Regions from separate parts of the Homo sapiens genome. Here all the other regions are linked to region 3. The links come from fine-mapping of genetic effects on gene expression. A gene starts in region 3. Each other region holds a variant in brackets. All regions are shown on one strand. Distances are from middle to middle. Region 1 overlaps ATL3 (atlastin GTPase 3). Region 2 overlaps RTN3 (reticulon 3). Region 3 holds the start of RTN3 (reticulon 3).

Region 1 (8,183 bases), 26 kb before region 3:
TTCATTCTTACGGATTTCCAGGCACACAAACATATTACTTTCTCCTCTGTAATATTTATATTTTACAGTTGCTGAGTCTACCAACAGCCTTGTCATGTGAGACAAGGTGAATTACATAACTGCATCATAATCTACTTACTACTTCTTATGGGTTGAATTGTGTCCTGAAGAAAAATATGCTAAAGTCCTCGCACCTGGTACCTGTGAATGTGACCTTACATATATCTATAGCACTTGGCCCTCTACCTCACACAAGGTAAGCATTCGAAAAATGGTTGAAAGGAAGGAGCTTAGAAAGGAATAAATTTCAGGTGAAATGGTGACCAACTCAAGTTGTGATCGAAGTTTTACAGAGCAACAGCTCTCAACCACTAAGCCATGGCACTGGTACAGAACTACCAATTATGAAGTACAGACAATTGCCATAAGCAACATTAAGGATCGAGGTTTAGGAGGAATTTTCCTTGTTTTTTAAAATAAACATAAAATAGAACTAATTCAAGGTAATCCCTATAATAATGACACCCTTACTCACTCACATTCTGATGCTTTCTTGAATGTCAGTGGGAGAAGTAGCATTAGAGTAACATACCAGAATTGCATCCAACCCTGGAATACTCACAAAAGAGCATTTTGTGGGAAAAACAGATAAGACCTGCTGCTATAAAAAAAGAGAAGAAAAAGGCCGGGCGCGGTGGCTCATGCCTGTAATCCCAGCACTTTGGGAGGCCGAGGCAGGCGGATCACGAGGTCAACAATTTGAGACCAGCCGGACCGACATGGTGAAACCCCGTCTCTATTAAAAATACAAAAAGTAGCCGGGCATGGTGGCGCACACCTGTAATCCCAGCTTGCAGTGAGCCAAGATTGCATCATTGCACTCCAGCCTGGGGACAAGAGCAAGACTTCGTCTTAAAAAAAAAAAAAAAGTCTATTCTGAACATAGCAGCCAGAATGATCCCTTTACAACAGGTCAGATAACATCATTGCTGACGACCCTCCCATGGCTCCCACCTTCCCCAGAGGAAAAGACCCAGAATGAGTGGGACCTCACTGCCTCTCTGACTTCATCACTTAACCCCTTCCTGTCACACTCTCCAATCCTACCCACCGGCCTCCCTGCCATTCCTTGATCTTGCCAAGCACACTCCCCTCAGGGTCTGTCTTCCAGCAGCTGCTCCTCTCCTGTAATAGTTTTCCGCCCAAATGTATCTGAAGGACTCACTTGCCCACTTTCTTTCATTCTCTGCTCAAATCATTAAGGCCTTCCCCGACCACTCCTGCTCCACCCCACCAATGGCTATACATAGTATAGAATTACTATGAACCAAAAACCTTCCTCTACATTTCAATCTTTTGCTAAAAACTACTCAGTTGTAAAATGTTCCTTAATCTTAAAACTTTTAAATAATATGATGTTAAAATTGTTATGAGAAATATATACCTGCAGCTGTTGAAGATCATCTTCTTGAATGTTCTGAGATAAATTATAAATCTAGAAAACAAAAATCCAGATTGATACTACTCTGGCTTACTTCAAACAAATCCCAAATAAGCCTAAAGGGCTGACAGAAGCTTTGAACAATTAAAGACTTGCATATAAGAACATGAGGCCTGTTCAAACAGCAATATGATCTGTCTTTTGGAAAACTATGCACATAAGATTGAAATCAAAAATTCCTCCTTTACAGTTTAAAACAGTTTTCCTAAGCTCTTATCAAATCTGTATTTTCTATATGATATAATAAATTTCCATTTTTTGGACTTTTCTTGGAACATATTATATATAATTATGACCAAAGAGGAAAAATTCTTTGGCTCCTTCTCAAACTTTTAAAAGTTTAACTGCATCTACAGTTTAAAAATAATATTTACATATCATCCTAGAAATTCTGTTAACAGAACAATAACCAAAACTGTATTTCCTCCCTTTATCTTATTTCCTTTGCGAGCTTTTTTCTGAGTCAAGTGGTTTTTACCTGAACAGAACTAGTCATAGTGCTTAGAGCAAAGATGGTAGCACAGTCTTTCACAGTTGACTGGCTGTCAAATGCCCCCTGGGTATCCATCAGAACAACTGCAACCTAAAAAAAAGGAAAATACAAACAAAAGAGATTAAACTAAGAAGGAGGAAACCGTAAAGGAGAAATTGAAAAGTACAGGTAATATATACTTAAGTACAGGTAATGTTTATGTGAGCCTTAAGCACCTGCTTGTAGGTTCTGTACAACTATTTAGGTGCTTTGCTTTGACTACAGCACTCTACTGAAGATTATCCAGCGTTATACAGAGCAATATGGAAGGCAAAAATTGCCCCACCAATTGAAACAGACAAAAGTTGAAAGCAATTAGCTTATCACCCAGCCAGGCATTTGGATGTTTCCTGTTGTTGAAAAAGAAACTAAAAAATATTCATCTTGGCCAGGTGCAGTGGCTCACACCTATAATACCAACAGTTTGGGAGGCCGTGGCAGCAGCAGCACTTGAGCCCAGTTCAATACCAGCCTGGGCAACATAGTGAGACCCAGTCTCTACATAAAATTTAAAAAATTAGGTCAGGCGCAATGGCTCATGCCTGTAATCCCAGCACTTCGGGAGGGAGGCAAAGTCAGGTGGATCACTTGAGGCCAGGAGTTCCAGACCAGCCTGGCCAACACGGTGAAATCGTGTCTCTACCAAAAATACAAAAATTAGGCCAGGCGCAGTGGCTCACACCTGTAATCCCAGTACTTTGGGAGGCCAAGGCAGGTGGATCACCTGAGGTCCAGAGTTCGAGACCAGCCCGGCTAACATGGCAAAATCCCGTCTCTACTAAAAATACAAAAAAAATGGGCGTGGTGGTGCACACCTGTAGTCCCACCTACTCCAGAGGTTGAGGCAGGAGAATCACTTGAACCCTGGAGGCAGAGGTTGCAGTGAGCCGAGACCACACTACTGTACTCCAGCCTGGGTGAGAGAGCGAGATTTTGTCCCAAAAAAAAAAAACCAAAACTCTTTGGTATATACCCAAAGGAGCTGAAAACTTATGTCTCAACAAAAACCAACACATGAGTATTTATAGGAGCTTTATTCTTAATTGTCAAAATTTGAAAGCAACCAAGATGTCCTTCAACAGGCAAATGGATGAACAAACTGGTGCCTTCATAATGTAGAATACTATTCAGCAATAAAAAGAAATGAACTATCAAGACACGAAAGAGTTGCAGAAATCTTAAAATTGCATTGCTAAGTGAAAGAGGCCAATCTGAAAAGGCTGCATATTGTATGATTCTAACTATA[T/C]GACATTCTGGTAAAGGCGAAACTATGGAGACAGTAAAAAGATCAGTGGAGGAGTTTGTGGGGAGGGAAGAGAGGAACAGATAGGTACATTACAGAGAATGTTTAGGGCAGTGTGACTATTCCGTATGATACAGTAATAGTGGGCATGTGTCACTATACAGTTGTCAAAATCCAATGTACAACACAATGAGTGAGCCCTAAAGTAAACTATGTATGGGTTTTAGCTAATGACAATATATTGGTTCAAATATTAATTGTAACAAATGTATCACACTATTACAAGATGTAAACAACAGAGCAAACTGAAGGAGAATGTGGGAACTGGGCAGGTTGCAATTAATTTTCCTGAAAACCTAAAACAAAATAAAGATACAATTTGTTTTTTTTTTTTTTTTGAGACGGAGTCTTGCGCTGTGGCCAGGCTGGAGTGCAGTGGCGCGATCTCGGCTCACTGCAAGCTCCGCCTCCCAGGTTCACGCCATTCTCCTGCCTCAGCCTCCCAAATAGCTGGGACTATAGACGCCCGCCACCACGCCCAGCTAATTTTTGTATTTTTAGTAGAGACGGGGTTTCACTGTGTTAGCCAGGATGGTCTCGATCTCCTGACCTCATGATCCGCCCGCCTCAGCCTCCCACAGTGCTGGGATTACGGAGTTTCACTCTGTTGCCCAGGTTGGAGTACAATGGCACGATCTTGGCTCACTGCAACCTCCACCTCCCAGGTCCAAGCGATTCTCCTGCCTCAGCCTCCCGAGTAGCTGGGATTACAGGCATGAGCCACCATGCCCGGCTAATTTTTGTATTTTTAGTAGAGACAGGGTTTCACCACGTTGGTCAGACTCGTCTTGAACTCCTGACCTCAGATGATCCACCCACCTCGGCCTCCCAAAGTGCTGGGATTACAGGCCTAAGCCACCATGTCTGGCCTATTTTTTTTTTTTTTTTGAGACAGAGTTTTGCTCGTCACCCAGGCTGGAGTGCAATGGCGCAACCTCGGCTCACCACAACCTCCACCTCCCAGGTTCAAGCGATTCTCCTGCCTCAGCCTCCTGAGTAGCTGGGATTACAGGTGCACACCACCATACCCGGCTAATTTTTGTATTTTTAGTTGAGCAAGACTGTCTAAAAAAAAAAAAAAAAGTTGTTTTCTGTTAATTTTAATATCTGTGTTAGTTCTGAGACAGTTTTGATTGATTTTTCTCCTCATTTGGGTTATATTTTTCTGCTTCTTTTATGTCTGCAAATTTTTGATAGGATGTAGACTTGTGGATTTTCCCTTGTTGGGTGCTGGTTATTTTTGCATTCCTATAAAATATCTAGCTTTATTCTGAGATGTAGTTAAGTAATTTGGAAACTCTGGTTTTTTCTGTTCTTGCTGTTTAGATTTGTTAAATGGAACCAGAGTGTTGTTATTCCTCATTACTGAGGCAAGACTGAGTACTCTTCCTAATCCCACTGCAATCTCCGCCGCCCAGGTTCCAGCAATTCTCCTGCCTCTGCCTCCCAAGTAGCTGAGATTACAGGTGGGCGCCACCACGCCCAGCTAATGTTTGTATTTTTAGTAGCAACAGGGCATCACCATGTTGGCCAGGCTGGTCTCGAACTCCTGACCTCAGGTGATCCGCCCACCCCAGCCTCCCAAAGTGCTGGGAATACAGGCGTGAGCCACCGCATCTGGCCTTTTTTTTTTTTTTTAGATGGAGTTTAGCTCTTGTTGCCCAGGCGGAAGTGCAATGGTGCGATCTCGGCTCACTGCAACCTCCACCTCCCGGGTTCCAGCGATTCTCCCACCTCAGCCTCCCAAGTAGCTGGGATTACAGGCATGACCCATCACACCCAGCTAATTTTTTGTATTTAGTAGAGATGGGTTTTCACCATGTTGGTCAGGCTAGTCTCAAACTCCTGACTTCAGGTGATCCACCCACCTCGGCCTCCCAAAGTGTGAGATTACAGACGTGCGCCACCGCGCCGGCCAAAGAATTTTAAATGAACATCTTGTGGAACAACTTCAAGCAGCAAGAGGCACATGTAATAGGAGTCTCCAAAGGGAGTAACAGACCAAAAAAACTTGAAGAAATAATAACCTTAAAATGTCCAAATTTGATAAACATTATAAATCTGCAGATTCAAGAAGCTCAACAAAACCCACATACAAATAACATGAACTACATCAGCCTGGCGCAGTGGCTCACGCCTATAATCCCAGCACTTTGGGAGGCCAAGGCGGGCAGATCACGAGGTCAGGAGATCGAGACCATCCTGGCTAACACAGTGAAACCCCGTCTCTACTAAAAATACAAAAACTTAGCCGGGCGTGGTGGTAGGCGCCTGTAGTCCCAGCTCCTTGGGAGGCTGAGGCAGGAGAATGGCGTGAACCCGGGAGGCGGAGCTTGCAGTGAGCCGAGATCACGCCACTGCACTCCAGCCTGGGCGACACAGTGAGACTCCGTCTCAAAAAAAAAAAAAGAACTACATCAAAACACATAATAATTTGCTCAAAAACAGTGATAAAATCTTAAAAGCAACCAGACATACCCTATAAATATATATACCTATGTACCCACGAAAATAAAATTTTTTTTAATTTAAAGAAAAAAGCAACCAGACAAAAAAGACAGATTAGGTACAAAAGAACAAAAATAAGAATAACAGTGTATTTCTTGTCAGAAACAATGTCAGCAGACTGGGCACAGTGGCTCATGCTTGTAATCCCAGCACTTTGGGAAACAGAGGCAGGTGAATAACCTGAGGTCAGGAGTGCAAGACCAGCCTGACCAATATGGCGAAACCCCGTCTCTACTAAAAATACAAAAATTAGCCAGGCGTGGTGGTGCGCGCCTGTAGTCCCAGCTACTCAGAAGGCTGAGACAGGAGAATTGCTTGAACCCGGGAGGCAGAGGTTGAAGTGAGCCGAGATCGCACCACTGCACTCCAGCCTGAGCAACAGAGAGACTCCCTCTCAAAAAAAAAAAAAAGAAACAATGTCAGCAAAAAGGCAAAGGGGCAACACCTTTGAAGTACTGAGAAAAATACGTTGGCCTAGAACTCTACACTAAGAGTAAATATTTTCCAAAACAAAGGCAAAATAAAGATTTTTCAGATGTATGAAAGCTAAAAGAATTCAGTACCAACACTCCAGCACTTCAAAATATCAAAGGTGGCCAGGTGTGGTGGCTCACCCCTGTAATCCCAGCACTTTGGGAGGCTGAGACAGGCGGATCACGAGGTCAGGAGTTCCAGACCAGCCTGGCCAACATTGTGAAACCCTGTCTCTACTAAAAATACAAAAATTATCCAGGCATGGTGGTGTGCACCTGTACTCCCAGCTAATGAGGAGGCTGAGGCAGGAGAATTGCTTGAACCTGGGAGGCGGAGACTGTAGTGACCAAGATGGTGCCACTGCACTCCAGCCTGGGCAACAGAGTGAGACTACATCTCAAAAAAAAAAAAAAAAAAAGGACAAACAGGTGTGAAGGCATGCTTATAGGATTGGGCTAAAAACAGAAGTAATGGATGAAAGTCTGTATAAGAAACACATGACTTACCCCTCCCGATCCTTACAAAGAAATCTGTGGAGAGGCTCTATGCCCATAGCTTACAAGGCATAGATGAGACTGGGGCTAAGAAGCCCTACTGATAGCTAGGGGATAGTGAATGCCCACCTTCTGAACAGTGAGATCCCCAATGCCATTTCCCTGCTCAACTCCCAGAACAACAGCCAGGTCTGTGCCACCCATACAGGAGTAAGGAAGTAAAGAACAGAAGTGGTAACACATAAGAGCATCAGCCTCTGGGAAGTGAAAACTGGGTAGAGAGGAGAATAACACACATGACAGCTGCTTTCTGTTAGAAGCCTTACAGTAGTACCTGACCTTTTAAACTATATTCATGCATTTTATTTAAGAATCTTAAAAACAATCAATATGTATTAATTTTAAATCATTCACTTTGATAAAAAGTTGTTTTCACATCTTCCTTCCTTTTATTGAAAAAAAATTTCAGAAAATAACAGTTCATAAAAGACACAAACAAATCAACAGGTATATACCAGTGGAAAACACAATATGAAACTAAAAATGCCATTGGCTTTTTTTTTTTTTTTTTGAGACGGAGTCTCGTACTGTCGCCCGAGCTGGAGGACAGTGGTGTGATCTCGGCTCACTGCAACCTCTGCCTCCCGGGTTCAAGCGTTTCTCCTGCCTCAGCCTCCCAAGTAGCTGGGATTACAGGCACCCACCACCACACCCAGCTAATTTTTTGTATTTTTAGTAGAGACAGGGTTTCACTATGTTGGCCAGGCTGGTCTCAAACTCCTGACCTTGTGATCTGCCCACCCTGGCCTCCCAAAGTGTTGGTATTACAGACGTGAGCCACAGCACCCGGCTGCCACTGGCTTCTTTAATTGGTTAAGAGCACAAAATGTAACAGGCAGAAGGTCTGTTTCAAACAAATTAAAAAGCTATGTGTTTTTTAAATTCTCCCCAAGTTGGATATACACACACCCACAAAAATAGTGTGTGAAGGAAAGCTGTCATACACAGTAAGTTGTATCCTGAATTATTCAAGGAAACACATGTTGAAATAGGAATTAACAGAGTCAGCAACAGATTAATATTTTTTAACTGAGTCTAAAAATGCTACATAGCCCTAAGGAATACTACATAAAGTACTGCTAGGTACAAACAAAAAAGTCTGTATAGCTTTTAGCAAAAATGTTTTTCCAGAAAAGAAAATTAAAATAATGCAATCAGCAGACCAAGGAGACTACAGCTAGACATCAGAGCTACAACTTCGCATACCTGTGTCAGAAAATCCTATTTATCCACAACAGACTAAAATTTCAGGACAAAACAGGGACTTTTTAACTTTTCTTACTTTACCCATTTTAAATTCTTTGATAAAAG
Region 2 (8,183 bases), 45 kb after region 3:
TTTCTTACTGGAAACTGTAGGTAGATTTATCTTTTTAAGTTTTAATATTTAAAATAGATAAATTGTACTTAACCTTACAATGGTATTGTGAGGATTAAATATGAAAATGCAGGTAATACAGTGCCTAGCACATAGTAAATATGCAGTCAGATTTAGCACCAAATACAGGGCCTGCCACATAAGTAGTACTGGATAATTATTTGTTGAATGAATGATATGAATTATTTCACTAACAATTATCAGTGAAAGACATTGAGGCTTTTTGATAAACCAAAAATTTTGAATTACCAATTAAGGATAGCTCTTATACTCTAGCATTTGAAGCTCACTGAATTTGGATTAAAGAGTACTAGGTTCTAATTCTTGCTGTGCTGTGTCTAGAAGTATGACTTTGAACAAGTAACTTACATAACCTTTCGGGGGCCTCAGTTTTAATATCTGTAAAGTGAGGATGTAAAGTGAAGTAGATGGTCTTCAATTATCATTTAAATAATATGATTCTCTGGCTCTGGTACATTCTAGATTTCTTCCTCAGTTGTCATAATTCTTACAGGTAGTAACTTTTGGGCAATAAGGCATATAGGAATTATGCTACAAGAACTCCAGTGTCTAATTCTGGCAAATTCCTGTTTTAGCATGACCTTAGATGACTAGTCTAATTGGTTCAGCATCTTCCTTTGTTAATGTGATGATCATTATTTTGCCCTGCTTTGTATGTTGCAGTAAATAAAGTGCTGTGTAAATGCTAATTATTAGTGATTATCAACTGAATTATTTAATCTAGCGTGAGAGATGTAAAGGGCTATGGAAGTTCAGGATATTTGTCACTGACCAAAGTCTATGATTAGTGTATGTTTTTAGATTGTAATTAAAGAAGACCGGTATAGTTAGACCAAGAAGTTTAAAGGCCTTTCTTGCAGCTTTCAAAAGTGAAAACCTTTTAAAATTGTCTTATTTATGAATAAATCTTTAAAAATATAATCCATTTCATTGCAGTGAAATAAATAAATAAAAACATAAACCATTTCAGTAAAATGCATCAGTGTCTAGTTTTATTTATTTATCTTTTTTTTTTTTTTTTTAATTTTTTGAGACAGAGTCTCACTCTGTTGCCCAGGCTGGAGTGCAGTGGCGCGATCTCGGCTCACTGCAACCTCCACCTCCAGGGTTCAAGCGACTCTCCTGCCTCAGCCTTCCGAGTAGCTGGGATTACAGGCGTGTGCCACCACGCCCAGCTAATTTTTTGTATTTTTACTAGAGATGGGGTTTCACCATGTTGGCCAGGCTGGTCTCTCAAACTCCTGGCTTCAAGTGATCCGCCTGCGTTGGCCTCTCAAAGTGCTGGGATTTACAGGCCTGAGCCACCACACACAGCCGATTGTCTAGTTTTAAATACGTGTATCTGCATATTCTTCCTTTCTAAGGTAAAAACAGTGCTTTAATTATATTCTGCCTTAAGTTGTTTGGGAAAATAGGCAAAAGAAACAATGAAAGAATTAGTGGTTTTCTGTTTGTTTTTGCTATTTTATGGTATATTATGTAACAGCTTGTAATGAAGCCTTTATCATATTATAGTTGGTTGCTGAGTAATTAAGTTATGATAGACTCTCATAGTTTGGGGAAGAAAATCAGATCCCTGCCTCTCACATACCTAGTGTAGTGAAGATAGTTTTTTGTGTTTTAGTATCCAGATTGGCAGGATGCAAGGAAATAAGCATATAGTTTGGTGAAGTACATGTAAATTGTTACAGCCTTTCTGGAAGGCAGTTGGCAATATGTAACAGACCTAGAACTGCCCTAGCAATCTTGTTTTTAGGAATTCTTTTTTTTTTTTTTTTTTTTTTTTTTTGAGACAGAGTCTCGCTCTGTCGCCCAGGCTGGAGTGCAGTGGCGCAATCTCGGCTCACTGCAAGCTCTGCCTCCCGGGTTCACGCCATTCTCCTGCCTCAGCCTCCCGAGTAGCTGGGATTACGGGCGCCTGCTACCACGCCCGGCTAATTTTTTGTATTTTTTAGTACAGACGGGGTTTCACCATGTTAGCCAGGATGGCCTCAATCTCCTGACCTGGTGATCTGCCCACCTCGGCCTCCCAAAGTGCTGGGATTACAGGCGTGAGCCACCCGTGCCCGGCCCTTTTTTTTTTTTTTTTTTTTTTTTAAAGACAGAGTCTCACCGTGTTGCCCAGGCTGGAGTGCAATGGCACGATCTCGGGTCACTGCAACCTCCACCTCCCGGGTTCAAGCGATTCTCCTGCCTCAGCCTCCCAAGTAGCTGGGATTACAGGTGCCTGCCACCACGCCCGGCTAATTTTTTGTATTATTAGTAAAGACGGAGTTTCACTATATTGGCCAGGCTGGTCTCGAACTCCTGACCTCGTGATCCGCCCGCCTTGGCTTCCCAAAATACTGAGATTACAGGCGTGAGCCACGGAACCCAGCTGGAATTTATCCTTTTTTAAAAATGTGCAAAAATAACTACACAGATGTTCATTATAGCACAGTTTATGATAGTGGCAGATATCTCGGTGTCTTAACAATTAGAGATTGGTTGAGTATATTATGGTATAACTGTGCAATCGAATATTACACAGTCATTGAAGTTGTTAAAGTTTTGTTTTTTTTTTTTTTAAGAAATGGAAAAATATAGAAAAGTACAAAGGCAGCCTACACCCATATCTTCTCTATATGTAGAATTAACTTATGTTAATTGTTAGCATTGGTAGTCATATTTGCTTCCAAACTAAAGGACTCTTTGATTACCACCTGGCCACGCCCTCCATCTCCCCTTCCCCAGACGTAACACCGTCATGGACCTGGTACATCCTTCCAGTTTATTTTAAATAAATGTGTTTGTATTGTTTTATGCTTTTTAACCATTCATTCATGTTATCATGTTTGTTGTATAACGTTTTCCATTCAACATTAGGTTTTTAAACTTCTTTCATGTTGGAATTTATATAATTTATTCATTTTAACAGCTATGTAGTAATCCATTATATGAATATATTATTTTCTTTTGGTAAGGATTTAGATTCTTTCCTATTTTTTGCTATTATAGACAGCGCTGAAGTTAACATTCTTCTTTTTTTTTTTCCTTTTTCTTTTTCTTTTTTGAGATGGAGGAGTTTCACTCTGTCGCCCAGGCTGGAGTGCAGTGGTGCAATCTCCGCTCACTGCAAGCTCCGCCTCCCGGGTTCATGCCATTCTCCCGCCTCAGCCTCCTGAGTAGCTGGGACTACAGGCGCCTGCTACCACGCCCAGCTAATTTTATTTTTGTATTTTTAGTAGAGTCGGGGTTTCACTGTGTTAGCCAGGATGGTCTCAATCTCCTGGCCTCGTGATCCGCCCGCCTCGGCCTCCCAAAGTGCTGGAATTACAGGCATGAGCCACCGCGCCCGGCCTTAAGTTAACGTTGTTATACTTGTCTGTTTTTACACATATGTGACTATTTCCCCAGCGTTAGGGTGCTACTGCTTATCAGTTTCACTTCTAGCTCTGTGCCTTATTTTTCTAGTTACTGTCAAAGTTAGTGTCTTCTGTTATGTAAAAATGTTCGTAATTTATTAGTAAAAACTACATTGTTCAGCACCCAGCAGATGGTGGGTGCTAAAGTGGAATGAAAAGAGTTACCAAACAAGGAATACAAAATAATTCCTATCTTGGTATCATTTAAAGTGAATCTATGCTAGAAAGATTCCATAAAGAAAAAAAATGAATCTATATACCTACATATACAGGGAATCTGAAGTAATTTTTAAAAGCAATGTCAGAATGGTTTTCTTTTCTTATGGCCAAGTAGGCTTTTACTGGACCTGACCTTCCTGCATATAACTGGACAAAATTTTTAAAAAACAAAGACCCGAAGGCACTGGAGGATGAACGGGAGCAGTCAGATTCTGAAAGAGAGTTGACACATGTAAGAAGAGACAGCATGAAATTAGTTTTTTATTTTTACTGCTTTTAGCTAGAGGACAGGCTGAAGTGGGCACCTGACAGGCTGGCTTAAACCTTCATAGAAAACCTAAGCAGTGGACAGCATTTGGGTCAGCCACAACCACTGAGTCAGTGGAATGTAAGGGGAGGAGGAATCTTGGAA[G/A]GGAGAGATCCAGAGAGTGACAGCCTAAAATTCTGTAGATAAAATAAACTGTGTTTAAGCCTCTGTTTAATTGTAAACCACACTTAACACAAAAGATTATAAGCAGCACAACTAGAGATGAAAGAAGTGAACTGGGCCGGGTGCAATGGCCCACGCCTGTAATCCCAGCACTTTGGGAGGCCAAGGCGGGTGGATCACGAGATCAGGAGTTCAAGACCAGCCTGGTCAAGCTGGTGAAACCCCATCTCTACTAAAAATACAAAAATTAGCCGGGCACATTGGCAGGCGCCTGTAATCCCACCTACTCAGGTGGCTGAGGCAGGAGAATCGCTTGAACCCCTGGGGGTGGAGGTTGCAGTGAGCCAAGATCATGCCATTGCACTACAGCCTGGGTGACAGAGTAAGACTCCGTCTGAAAAAAAAAAAAAAAAAGAAGAAGTGAGCCGAGTTTGTAGTTTGAAGGCCAGGCACAGTGGCTCATGCCTGTAATCCCAGTACTTCAGGAGGCTGAAGCAGGTGGATCACTTGAGCCCAAGAGTTCAAGGCCAGCCTGGGCAGCATGGTGAAACCCCATCTCCACTAAAAAATACAAAATTAAGCCAGGCATGGTGGCCTGTGCCTGTAGTCCCTGAGCCCAGGGAGGTCAGGGGTGCAGATCGCACCACTGCACTCCAGCCTGGGTGACAGAGTAAGACTCTATCTTGAAAAAAAAAGTTTGCAGTTTGAATCTAACCAAATTTATTACATGTTAAAACAAAAGTAATGATACTCTCCAGAGGAATAGAACACAGTCTGGAATTTGTACAGCATAATATTCACAATGTCCAGGATATAATCCAAAACTACATGTTTTAAGAACCAAGAAATTATAACTCAGTCTGAAGAAAAAGAGACAATCGATAGAAACTAACTGCATGTGTTGGAATTAGGAGTCAGGATTTTAAGGGTTTTCATTTTAATCACTCAAAGAAGTAAAGGGAAATATTCTTGTATTGAATAAAAAAGAAAATCTCAACCTAGAAATCGAAACAAAAAAGAGTCAGGTGGGGATTCTAGAACTGTAAAATATAACCACTGAAATTAAAATTCAGCAGGTGACCTTAACAGCAAAATGGAGATGACAGGGGAAGAAGCTGGTGAACTTGATAGCATACTAAAGAACAGAAAGAACACATATTTTTTAAAAGTGTCACCAGAGCTTCAGAACCCTGTGGGACAATATCAAAAGACCTAACTTTGGCCAGGCACAGTGGCTCACGTCTGTAATCCCACCACTTCAGCACTTAGGGAGGCCGAGGCAGGAGGATCACTTGAGCCCAGGAGTGCGAGACCTGCAAAACCTATTTTTTATAATTGGAGTCCTAGCAGGAGAGGAAAGTGAGAGAGAGACTGGAGAAGGACATATTTAAAGATAAAATGGCTGAAATTTTCTTAAATTTTATGAAAGGCACATTTACTGATGAAAGACGCTCATCAAACACCACCTACTAGGATAATTACAAAGAAAACCATACCTTGGTGTATGTGTCGGGGTCCCCAAGATAACCATCAGGGCCAGTGATTTGCTAGAAGGACCCATAGGACTCATAAACTGTAAACTAGCAGTTAATGGTTTATTACAGCAAAAGGACATAGGTTAGAATTGGCCAGAGGAAAAGACACACGGGATAAAATCTAGGAGAGATCAGATGCAAGCTTCCAGGTATTGAATGGAGTCATACAGGGATGTACTTAATTCTTTTACAGTGATGCGTGATAACATGTGCAAAGGATTCCCAACCAAGGAAGCTCTTTCAATCTTTGGTGTCTAGCACGGCATGCAGTGCCCATATGACTGAACTCAGCTACTCAGACCCCAGACCCCCAGAGCAAAAACATGTACTGGCAATAAATCATATTGTTAGGATAAATTTATCTGATACAGCATGGCCTAAGACCTCAGGCATGCAAAAATACTTATGAAGCAGAATATTCAAAGGGCTCAGAGGCCATCTCCAAGGAGCCAGCAAAGGGCTAGTCCTGAAGACAGACCTTTCTTTGGCATGTGCAGGGCTTGGCATTCTAGGCCTGCTGAGTTTTCACCCTTTCCTATACAGTGTATCGTAGTCAAGTTGCTGAAAACCAAAAATAAGGAGAAAATCTTGAAAGTAGCTAGAGAAGAGGCTGGGCGCGGTGGCTCACGCCTGTAATCCCCACACGTTGGAAGGCCGAGACAGGTGGGTCACAAGGTCAGGAGTTCGAGACCAGCCTGACCAACATGGTAAAACCCCATCTCTACTAAAAATACAAAAATTAGCCGGGGTGGCAGTGCACACCTGTAATCCCAGCTACCCAGGAGGCTGAGGCAAGAGAATCACTTGAACCCAGGAGGCGGAGGTTGCAGTGAGCCGGGATTGCGCCACTGCACTCCAGCCTGGGCGACAGAGCGAGACTCCGTCTCAAAAAAAAAAAAAAAAGAAAAAAGAAAAGAAAGTAGCTAGAGAAGAATGACACAGGGAAATGACAATTATAATTAGAGCTTACTTCTTACTAGAAACCACAGATGTTTAAAAGGCAGTAGAGTAACATCTTATAAAGTGCCCAACAGGGAAAAAAAACCTGTCAACCCAGGTTTCTGTATTCAGGAAAAAAACAACAAAAAAAACAAAAAAACTGCAAGATTAAAAGACATTTTTAGATAAAAGAAAACTAAAAGAATTCTACCAGAAGACCTGCACTACAAGAAATGCTAAAGGAAGTTTTTCAGATTAAAGGAAAGTGATACCAAATAAAAACTCAGACCTTTAGGAAGGAATGAAGAGAATTGGAAGTGGTAAACACCTGGGTGAATATGAAAGGCTTATTTTTTTCCTCTTAATTTCTTAAAATATATAGGATTGCTTAAAGCAAAAATTGTAATAACGTGTATAGAGGTTATGATGTTTATTTCTTAGGACAATTATAACAGAAAAAAACGAGTATATGGACTGTACTATAGCAAAGGTTTCTGCTTTTTTTTTTTTTTTTTTTTTTTGTTTGTTTGAGACAGGATCTGGCTCTGTGGCTCTGTATCCCAGTCTGGAGTGCAGTGGTGCAATCATGACTCACTGCAACCTAGACCTCCTGGGCTCAAGCAATCCTCGTGCCTCAGCCTCCCATGTACCTGGGACCACAGGTGCATGCCACCACACCTAGCTAATTTTTTTATTTTTTTAGTAGAGACAGAGTCTCATTATGTTGCCAACACTGGCATTGATCTCCTGGGCTCAAGTAATCCTCCCACCTTGGTCTCCCAAAGTGCTGGGATTATAGGCATGAGCCACTATGCCCAGCCTGTTTCTACATTTTTAATGTAATGGTACTATAAATATATATATATTTGGAGACAGGGTCTCGCTCTGTCACCCAGGCTGTAGTGCAGTGAGTGGCATGAACACAGCTCACTGTACCTCAACCTCCCAGGCTCAAGCAATCCTCCCACTTCACCTTTTTGGGACTATAGGTATATGCCACGATGCCCAACTAGTTTTTAAATTAATTTTATTTTTATTTATTTTTTGAGACAGAGTCTCACTCTGTCACCCAGGCTGGAGTGCAGTGGCGTGATCTCAGCTCACTGCAACCTCTGCCTTCCGGGTTCAAGGGATTCTCCTCCCTCAGCCTCCCAAGTAGCTGGGATTACAGGCACTCACCACCACGCCTGGCTTATTTTTGTATTTTTAGTAGAGATGAGGTTTCACCATGTTTGTCAGGCTGATCTCAAACTCCTGACCTCTAGTGATCCACCCTCCTCGGCCTCCCAAAGTGCTGGGATCATAGGCGTGAGCCACCGTGCTCGGCCAAAAGATGTTATTTAAATATAAAGACACAGGTTGAAAGTAAATGGATGGAAAAGATATCCCAAAAAATTTATAAATGTATGCCATGCAAACAGTAAGCATAAGAAGATGAAAGCTTTTATCAGAAATAAATAAGGGACATCTTATCATGATAAAAGATACCAGGAAGTCTTGACAGTTATAAGTGTGTATGTGCCTAATAATGGCTTCAAAATACACAAAGCAAAAATTGACAGAATTGGCTGGGCAATGGCCCATGCCTGTAACCCC
Region 3 (8,183 bases):
CATTCTGCTGCCTCAGCCTCCTGAGTAGCTGGGACTACAGGTACCCGCCAGTAAGCCCGGCTAATTTTTTGTATTTTTAGTAGAGACGGGGTTTCACTGTGTTAGCCAGGATGGTCTCGATCTCCTGACCTCGTGATCCACCCACCTCGGCCTCCCAAAGTGCTGGGATTACAGGCGTGAGCCACCGCGCCTGGAGTTATTTTATTTTTCAAGATGAGGTCTCGCTATATTGTCCAGGCTGGTCTTGAACTCTTGGGCCCAAGCCATCCTCCTGCCTTGGCCTCTCAAAGTGTAGGGATTACAGAGGTGAGCCACCATGACAGCCAGGGAGCACTTTAAAAATTCCATCTTGGGCCGGGCGCGGTGGCTCACGCCTGTAATCCCAGGACTTTGGGAGGCTGAGGCAGGCAGATCACGAGGTCAGGAGTACAAGACCAGCCTAGCCAACATGGTGAAACCTCGTCTCTACTAAAAATATAAAAATTAGCCAGGCATGGTGGCATGGGCCTGTAGTCCCAGCTACTCGGGAAGCTGAGGCAGAAGAATCACTTGAACCCAGGAGGTGGAGGGTGCAGTCAGCTGAGATCATGCCACTGCACTCCAGCCTGGGTGACAGAGTGAGACTCCATCTCAAAAAAAAAAAAAATCCCATCTTGGACAAAAAAAAGGAAAAAAAAAATCCCAGCTGAGCCATTTCCCACCAAAAACTTCCACTCAATCCCCATTATTCTTAAGACAAAGCCTCAGTTCTTTGGTTCAATACTACTGCTTCTCCAAAAACTGGCCCCAACATATCTTCCTCATTTTAGATGTTATCCCTATATCTTCCCTCCTGTCCTAATTCAAGCCTTCAGCTCCAGCCAATTTGGTCTAACCAACACCCAAGACACCTTATACACGCTCACGTCTGAGCCTTTAGCCACCACATATGGCTGTACAGTCTGAGTGTTACACCAAGGCAGCTTGTGGAGACAAGGGGCAAGAGGGGATCAAATCTAGGTGAGGTTCTGCTAGCCAAATCAGCATGGAACTGTATCATGGGTGGGGCTGGGAGAAAGAGGTTCTTTTTTGTGATTCATCTGCCCAGAAGAGTACTTTTTTTGTATACATTCACAAAAGCAACCCCTGTATTTGCTTCATACCATCCTTTTCTGCTTTTAATGACTTCCTTACAATTCCAAACACCTATCTAACTTTGAGCATCTTCACAAAACCTCCTGGCTGGGCGCAGTGGCTCACGCCTGTAATCCCAGCACTTTGGGAGGCCGAGGCAGGCAGATCACGAGGTCAGGACATCGAGACCATCCTGGCTAACACAGTGAAACCCCGTCTCTACTAAAAATACAAAAAATTAGCCAGGCACGGTGGCACGCACCTGTAGTCCCAGCTACTCGGGAGGCTGAGGCAGGAGAATCACTTAAACCTGGGAGGCAGAGGTTGCAGTGAGCCGAGATCGCACCACTGCACTCCAGCCTGGGTGACAGAAAAAAAAAAAAAACCTCCCTAAGCCACTACAACTTCATGGTAATTCCTTCCCCTCGTTGTTTTTGTTTTTGTTTTTGTTTTTGTTTGAGGTGGAGTCTCACTGTGTTGCCCAGGCTGGAGTGCAGTGGCATGATCTTGGCTCATTGCAACCTCTGCCTCCCAGGCTCAGGTGATTCTCGTGCCTCAGCCTCCCGAGTAGCTGGGATTACAGGTACACACCACTATGCCTGGGTAATTTTGTATTTTCAGTAGAGATGGGGTTTCTCCATGTTGGCCAGACTAGTCTCAAACTTTTGACCTCAGGTGATCCGCCTACCTTGCCCTCCCAAAGTGCTGGGATTACAGGCGTGAGCCACTGCGCCTGGCCCCTCTCTTTTAAATTCATTTAATTTACTTGCCATCTAATCAAAGCACTATGGTTTTATGGTGTTTGGGGTTGTTTTTAGTTGCTATTTAATTTATATTATTTAACTTTATGTGAGTATGTTTTTTGTCCTAACTAGCTTGTAAGCTCATTGAAGACAAGACTAACATATTTTGGAGGTCTCTTCAAAGTTCCCAGAATTGTGTTATACACACAGCACATGATCAATACACATTCATAGAACTGGCCGGGCACAGTGGCTCACGCCTATAATCCCAGGTGTGGGAAACTGAGGCAGGAGGATCACCCGAGGTCAGGAGTTCAAGACCACCCTGGCCAACATGGTGAAACCCCGCCTCTACTAAAAATACAAAAATTAGCCGGACATGGAGGCATGTGCCTGTAATCCCAGCTACTCAGGAGGCTGAACCAGAACTGCTTGAACCCGGGAGGCGGAGGTTGCAGTGAGCCAAGATGGCACTACTGCACTCCAGCCTGGGCAATAGAGCAAGACTCCATCTCAAAAAAAAAAATGTCTGAAGGGTCTGAAAAGACCAGTAAGACCACGTGCATATCTTGCTTTTTAACTTCTCTGCTGCTACATATTAGGAAAATGGACTTCCTTCCAGCTGGAGTCTCCAGATTGTAGCAAGTGCTGTCAGAGTTAGCTACCAGCATCATTTATTTCCTTATCTAGCACTTAATAATGTAGATTTTTGTTTGTTTGTTTTGTTTTAAGGAGCAGAGCGTTTAATAGACAAGAAAGAAGGAAGGAAGAAGAAAACAGCTCCCCTAATAATGCGATTTTTAAAAAAACATATGCACGTATCAGAATGGGTAGATAACTGGCTTGGTTATCCGATCTGCTATTATTTCCCTTTGCCATCCAAGAGACAGTTTGCTGCATTATCAGCTGATGCAGTAAGTGCCAGGGTAAGGTATTAGCCACAAAGTTATTTTGGGAAATATTTTTCTATGCCTTTTTCAGAGCATTGCAAAGGCCAGGAGTCATCCTCCCACCCCCTGGGGCTTTACCTGACCTTAAAAACTCAAGGGCAGATGTAGTACACAGCTTGTTCTAGAAGATTTCCACTGGTCAGATCGCCTTTCCCCTCAGTGGCAGCTTGGCTGACCACCTCCCGCTTCATGAGGCTGCATCTTTACAGGATCTGCTGATCCTGCAATTGTACTTTGGGTCATCGATTGCTGCTTTAGCAGTAACAGTCGACAGCCTTGATTTTTATTATTTCCAGGATACAGTCCTCCTTTTTTTTTTTTTATTTGACGGAGATTTGCTCTTTCACCCAAGCTGGAGTGCAATGGTGAGATCTCTGCTCACTGCAACCTCTGCCTCCCGAGTTCAAGCAATTCTCCTGCCTCAGCCTCCCGAGTAGTTGGGATTACAGGCGCCCGCCACTACCCCCAGCTAATTTTTGTATTTTTAGTAGAGACAGGGTTTCACCACATTGGCCAGGCTGTTCTTGAACTCCTGACATCAGATGATCCACCTGCCTCGGCCTCCCAAAGTGCTGGGATTACAGGTGTGAGCCACCGCGCCCAGCCAACAGTCCTCCTTTAACAAAGACTATGCACCTTTCCAATATTTTGACCAGATGTAGGGAGAAGGCTTCGAATTTGGCAATCCAGCCCAGGAAAAGCAAAAAATGAACAAAATCCAATATAGGCTAGAAATCTGGTTTTAAATACATGTTCTGCTAAGGACCTCTTTTAGTCTATGAATAAAATTCAATTATGTGTATTTTGTGCCTTATTCTGATTTTTTTTACTTTTTTTTTTTTTTTTAAGGCAGGAAGGTTCTCGCTGTGTGGCCCAGGCTGGACTCCAACTCCTGGGCTCAAGTGATCCTCCCTTCTCTGCCGTAGCAGAGACTACGGGCCTCTGCCACTGACTGCGGCCTTATTCTGAATTTTTAATATCTAATTTTATCATCCCCCATAATCACAGCCAACATTTTCTTATCTCCTGGCTCTTCTTCATCAGCTCAGCATTTTTTTTCCCTCTCTAAAATATGTCGTCTCTATCTGACAGTCTATTCGGAGGAAAAGAGAACCTTAAGACCCAAGGTGGACCCTTCTCTGGCAACAGTAACGAGATAAGAATACGAAGCAGGTTCTGCGACTGCATTGCAATGTGATTGGAATGAGTAATCGTTTTTCATTCTGTATAGCATCTTTCTCCACCTACCAAATGGGGGGCCGTGCCATCTCTGCCTCTCGGTGAGGAGATATTACGACACAGCCAGTGAGATTCACAAAGCACCTTGCAGAGTGGGCCTACTCTACACTCTGGTTTTCAGTTTTTATTGGAGTCACAGGTGGGAATGCATCAAACAAAAGATATAGGCTCTGGAATGTACGGGAAAGAGAGTTTCCATAATGGAAGCCCAAAGACATTTCTACCGTTAAAATACATAATCTGCCGACCCTAAAACATTCACATAAAGAGGCAGGAGGGAATACTATCCCGCAGCTCCACGATTAGCCGCAGTCGTGGGCGGGGATTGGGGCTTGGATACGCCTTTTGCGTCTGGTCCCCAAGGGACGCTCCCCAACCCTCGGCGCGCGAGGCGCCGCGTGAGGCCGGCTTTGCCCCTCCTTCCCTGCAAGAGCGCAGAGGAGCGGTTCTTGCGCCTGCGCCCTGCGCCGCTGCGCGCTTTGGCACCCGCTTGGGGCCCTTTGTGCGCATGCGCGCTCGCGCTCCCGCCCTCTAGCTGCGCTCGGCTGAGTCAGTCAGTCTGTCGGAGTCTGTCCTCGGAGCAGGCGGAGTAAAGGGACTTGAGCGAGCCAGTTGCCGGATTATTCTATTTCCCCTCCCTCTCTCCCGCCCCGTATCTCTTTTCACCCTTCTCCCACCCTCGCTCGCGTAGCCATGGCGGAGCCGTCGGCGGCCACTCAGTCCCATTCCATCTCCTCGTCGTCCTTCGGAGCCGAGCCGTCCGCGCCCGGCGGCGGCGGGAGCCCAGGAGCCTGCCCCGCCCTGGGGACGAAGAGCTGCAGCTCCTCCTGTGCGGGTAAGGCGCGCGGGGAGCCCCCGCCCTGGGAAAGAGGGCGAGCGGGAGCCTGGGGGCTGGGGGGATTAGGAGGCGAGGCGGGAGGAGGACGAATTACCCTCGACTACTGACGGCTTCAGCCCCCCGGGGACGAGCGTTTGGAAAATGGGCAAAGGGGAAGGGGAACGTAAGGTTGTGCAGGCGGTGAGGAAATAGCGGGGTGTGAGGAAAACAGGTTGGGGGCGGGGAGATAGTCCAGTGGGCGTTAACGCCAAGACTGGGCAGGTGGGGAAAAATACCAGCTCGTGGGATAAAATGGAGAGTTGCTCGATGCATATGGTGAACCTGGGTGATTTAGTGAGGATTAGAGAGATTGAAAGGATACGGGCAGGTGGGTGGTGGGAGAAACAATTTGTTACTATTTTTGAGGGGATGGTGGTGAAAGGGTTGCATTGCAGGTTTGCAGACAGGTGTTGACATAATCAAGCATTCATGATAGTCCTCCAAAATATTTTTGGCTGCCCATGGGAAGGATGAGGAAGTTTAATGGAAGCATTGTAGCCTGTTTTTTTTGTTTGTTTGTTTTGTTTTTACTGTTTTCGGCTAGACTCCATGAATGCCGGATTTTTCTGAGGCTCCGAGGTAGAAGGAGGCGTGATGAGAATAGCTCAGGGAAGATTTGGGAGGGAGCTGCTAATGGTCCAAGATGGATCCGTGGCTGCATCTGCAACAGCCTGCTCTTCCCTGGCGCTGCGTGGGGGTGGGGACACGCAATCAGTCGCTTATATTCTAGAAAATAGAGTCATGCTAAGCTATCAACATGTTTTGATTTCATGTTTTCTGTGGGCTACTATTGATCGAAGTATAACAAAGGGGGGTGTTTATTGCAGAAAGGGGGAGGGGGAGAACATTCAGACAAAGCAAGGGCTGGTTGAGTCCCCTTCTCCCATCTCTGTGAAAGACTAAGAACGAAGCTGCAGACCTCCTTTAGTTTGCATTGTATACGCGTCTGCCTGCTGGTAAGAGCTGCCTGGCAAGCTCCCCTTATGCAGAAATCTGCAGTGCAGATGCCTTCTTAAGGGGGGAAAAAAAAACCACCATGGGCAGGTGGTAGTTCTCAAAGGAACGGAGTCTTTGAAGGGAAAAAAAATGCCTTTTGTCAAAGGCAGGGCCGTAAATTCGGGAGAGTAGAGATAATTTTGCTCTCTATTTAGTTATGTTAAAGGATTTTGATCATTTTTTTTTAATGCTTCGTTGTCTCCTTTGGCAGAATCTTGGGTTCTAAAGAAAAAATTTCTGATCTTAACCTTAAATGTATTATTCTCTACGTGTTTTTCTAGCAGTGAATTTTCACCTGTCTGAGAGCTTTGGAGCCCTGTTGGATTTTTTCAGTGTGGTTATGGCCATTTCAGTAGAAACAGGCAGTATCAGGAAGCTTTTGCAGATAAAAGAATGAGGCAGCAAATTTAGAACCCTGTCTCCTTTAAACCACCAGCCTTTTCTCCAAATTTTTGTGTTCTGGGCTAAGGTCCAGATGAACAGCGACTTCCTTATAACTTAGCAACTTGATCTTTTTGCTTTAATCACTTGTCATTGCTTACTGTTTGGTAGGCCCTTTTGTACTTACCTTTTGGGTTTTCTTGATTTTTCATTTTTGATTCAGACCTAAGTTTTAGAAATTTGGCTCTGTAAGCTCAAGATAAGACAGATGTTAAGTGTTGAAGAGTCATTTTAGTTAGCAGATTTGAAAATTTAGTCCTAGTTTGTTTATAACTAAATGGTGAAATCATTTGAGATTCAACTTTTTCATTCTTTTAATGCACTTATGGAAGAACTGGCCTAGTAGGCCAATGAAATAAGAGTATTTTGTTCACAGACACACAGGCATACCACAACCTAATTGGCACCTAAATTGGCAATACGAATTTAATGACATAACATATTTCTGTTTGGCTTACCTTTTTTTATGTCATCTACCCTTGTCACAATTTTTATCTATTTATTGTGTATTTTTTGCACTTCTCTTTATAATAGTGGAAAAGGTGCTGAAATTATGTGTTTTGTCGAAAGTAGTAGAATTATATCGTGAAGTGCTGTTCCAAGTACATGAGTTTGCATTACATTTTCCGAATAATATTAAATGCCGCGGTTTCCACTCGTTATTTCTTTCTCTTTTCTTTTCTTTCTTTTTTTTTTTTTTTTTTTTTTTTTTTTTAGACAAGGTCTTGCTCTGTCACAGACTGGAGTGCAGTGGAGCCATCTTGGCTCACTGCAACCTCCATCTCCGGGGTTCAAATGATTCTCATGCTTCAGCCACCCGAGTAGCTGGAATTACAGGCGTGTGCCACCACGCGTGGTTAATTTTCTTTTGGTTTTTTTTTTTTTTTTTTTTTTTTTGGTTTTTTTTTTGAGACGGAGTCTCGCTTTGTCGCCCAGGCTGGAGTGCAGTGGTGCGATCTCAGCTCACTGCAACCTCCATCTCCCAGGTTCATGCCATTCTCCTGCCTCAGCTTCCCAGTAGCTGGGACTACAGGTGCCCACCACCATGCCCGGCTAATTTTTTGTATTTTTAGTAGAAACAGGGTTTCACAGTGTTAGCCAGGATGGTCTTGATCTCCTGACCTCGTGATCCGCCCACCTCGGCCTCCCAAAATGCTGGGAATACAGGCATGAGCCACCACACACGGCCCACACCTGGTTAATTTTTATATCTTTGGTAGAGATGGGGTTTTGCCATGTTGGCCAGGCTGGTCTCAAACTCCTGGCCTCATGTGATCTGCCCTCCTCGGCCTCCCAAAGTGCTGGGATTACAGATGGGAGCCACTGTGACCAGCTTTACCCATTATTTCTTAGTAAAATTTTATTACAGAATTTGTATTTCTTAGATGTGCTGTAGACACGTATCACTATTAGCACTTAAAACAGTGATATATAGTAGTACTTGGTAAGTATTTGTTGAATAAATTATCAAATTTACGAGCTAGAAAGGCACACTTGAGAAATAAACTAAAGAGAAACTCTTTTTGGAGTCTCGCTCTGTAGCCCAGGCTGGAGTGCAGTGGTGTGATCTTGGCTCACTGCAACCTCTGTCTCCTGGGCTCAAACCATTCTCCCACCTTAGCCTCCTGAGTAGGTGGGATTACAGACATGCACCACCACGCCCAGATAATTTTTGTACTTTTACTAGATATGGGGTTTTGCCATGTTGGCCAGGCTGGTCTTGAACTCCTGACCTCAAGTGATCCGCCCACCTCGGCCTCCCAAGGTGTTGGGATTACAGGCATGAGCCACTGAGCCCAGCCAAGAGACTCTTATCTTAAATGC

The links. PIP is the estimated chance that this variant, and not a neighbour inherited with it, causes the effect. A credible set is the group of variants that fine-mapping cannot tell apart.
Region 1: its variant is the best candidate, but not a certain one, in a credible set for the expression of RTN3 in whole blood (TOPMed, PIP 0.67).
Region 2: its variant is the best candidate, but not a certain one, in a credible set for the expression of RTN3 in whole blood (TOPMed, PIP 0.59).

Annotation. Positions count from the first base shown.
Region 1 is chr11:63,650,492-63,658,674 of GRCh38, forward strand. ATL3 (atlastin GTPase 3) reads right to left here. Exons shown (of 13, transcript NM_015459.5): 4 at 1,980-2,084; 5 at 1,445-1,495. It overlaps LNCROPM (lncRNA regulator of PLAAT3 mediated phospholipid metabolism), which reads left to right. Exons shown (of 4, transcript NR_199012.1): 3 at 69-256. Among named protein-coding and RNA genes, the nearest start is that of ATL3, 17 kb to the right of the region's middle. The variant T/C (reference allele first, on the strand shown) is at 3,280.
Region 2 is chr11:63,722,352-63,730,534 of GRCh38, forward strand. The region is part of intron 3 of RTN3 (reticulon 3); the gene reads left to right. Among named protein-coding and RNA genes, the nearest start is that of ZFTA, 42 kb to the right of the region's middle. The variant G/A (reference allele first, on the strand shown) is at 4,096.
Region 3 is chr11:63,676,899-63,685,081 of GRCh38, forward strand. RTN3 (reticulon 3) reads left to right here and starts at 4,602. Exons shown (of 9, transcript NM_001265589.2): 1 at 4,602-4,880. The coding sequence starts at 4,739. RefSeq lists a silencer at 4,775-4,894.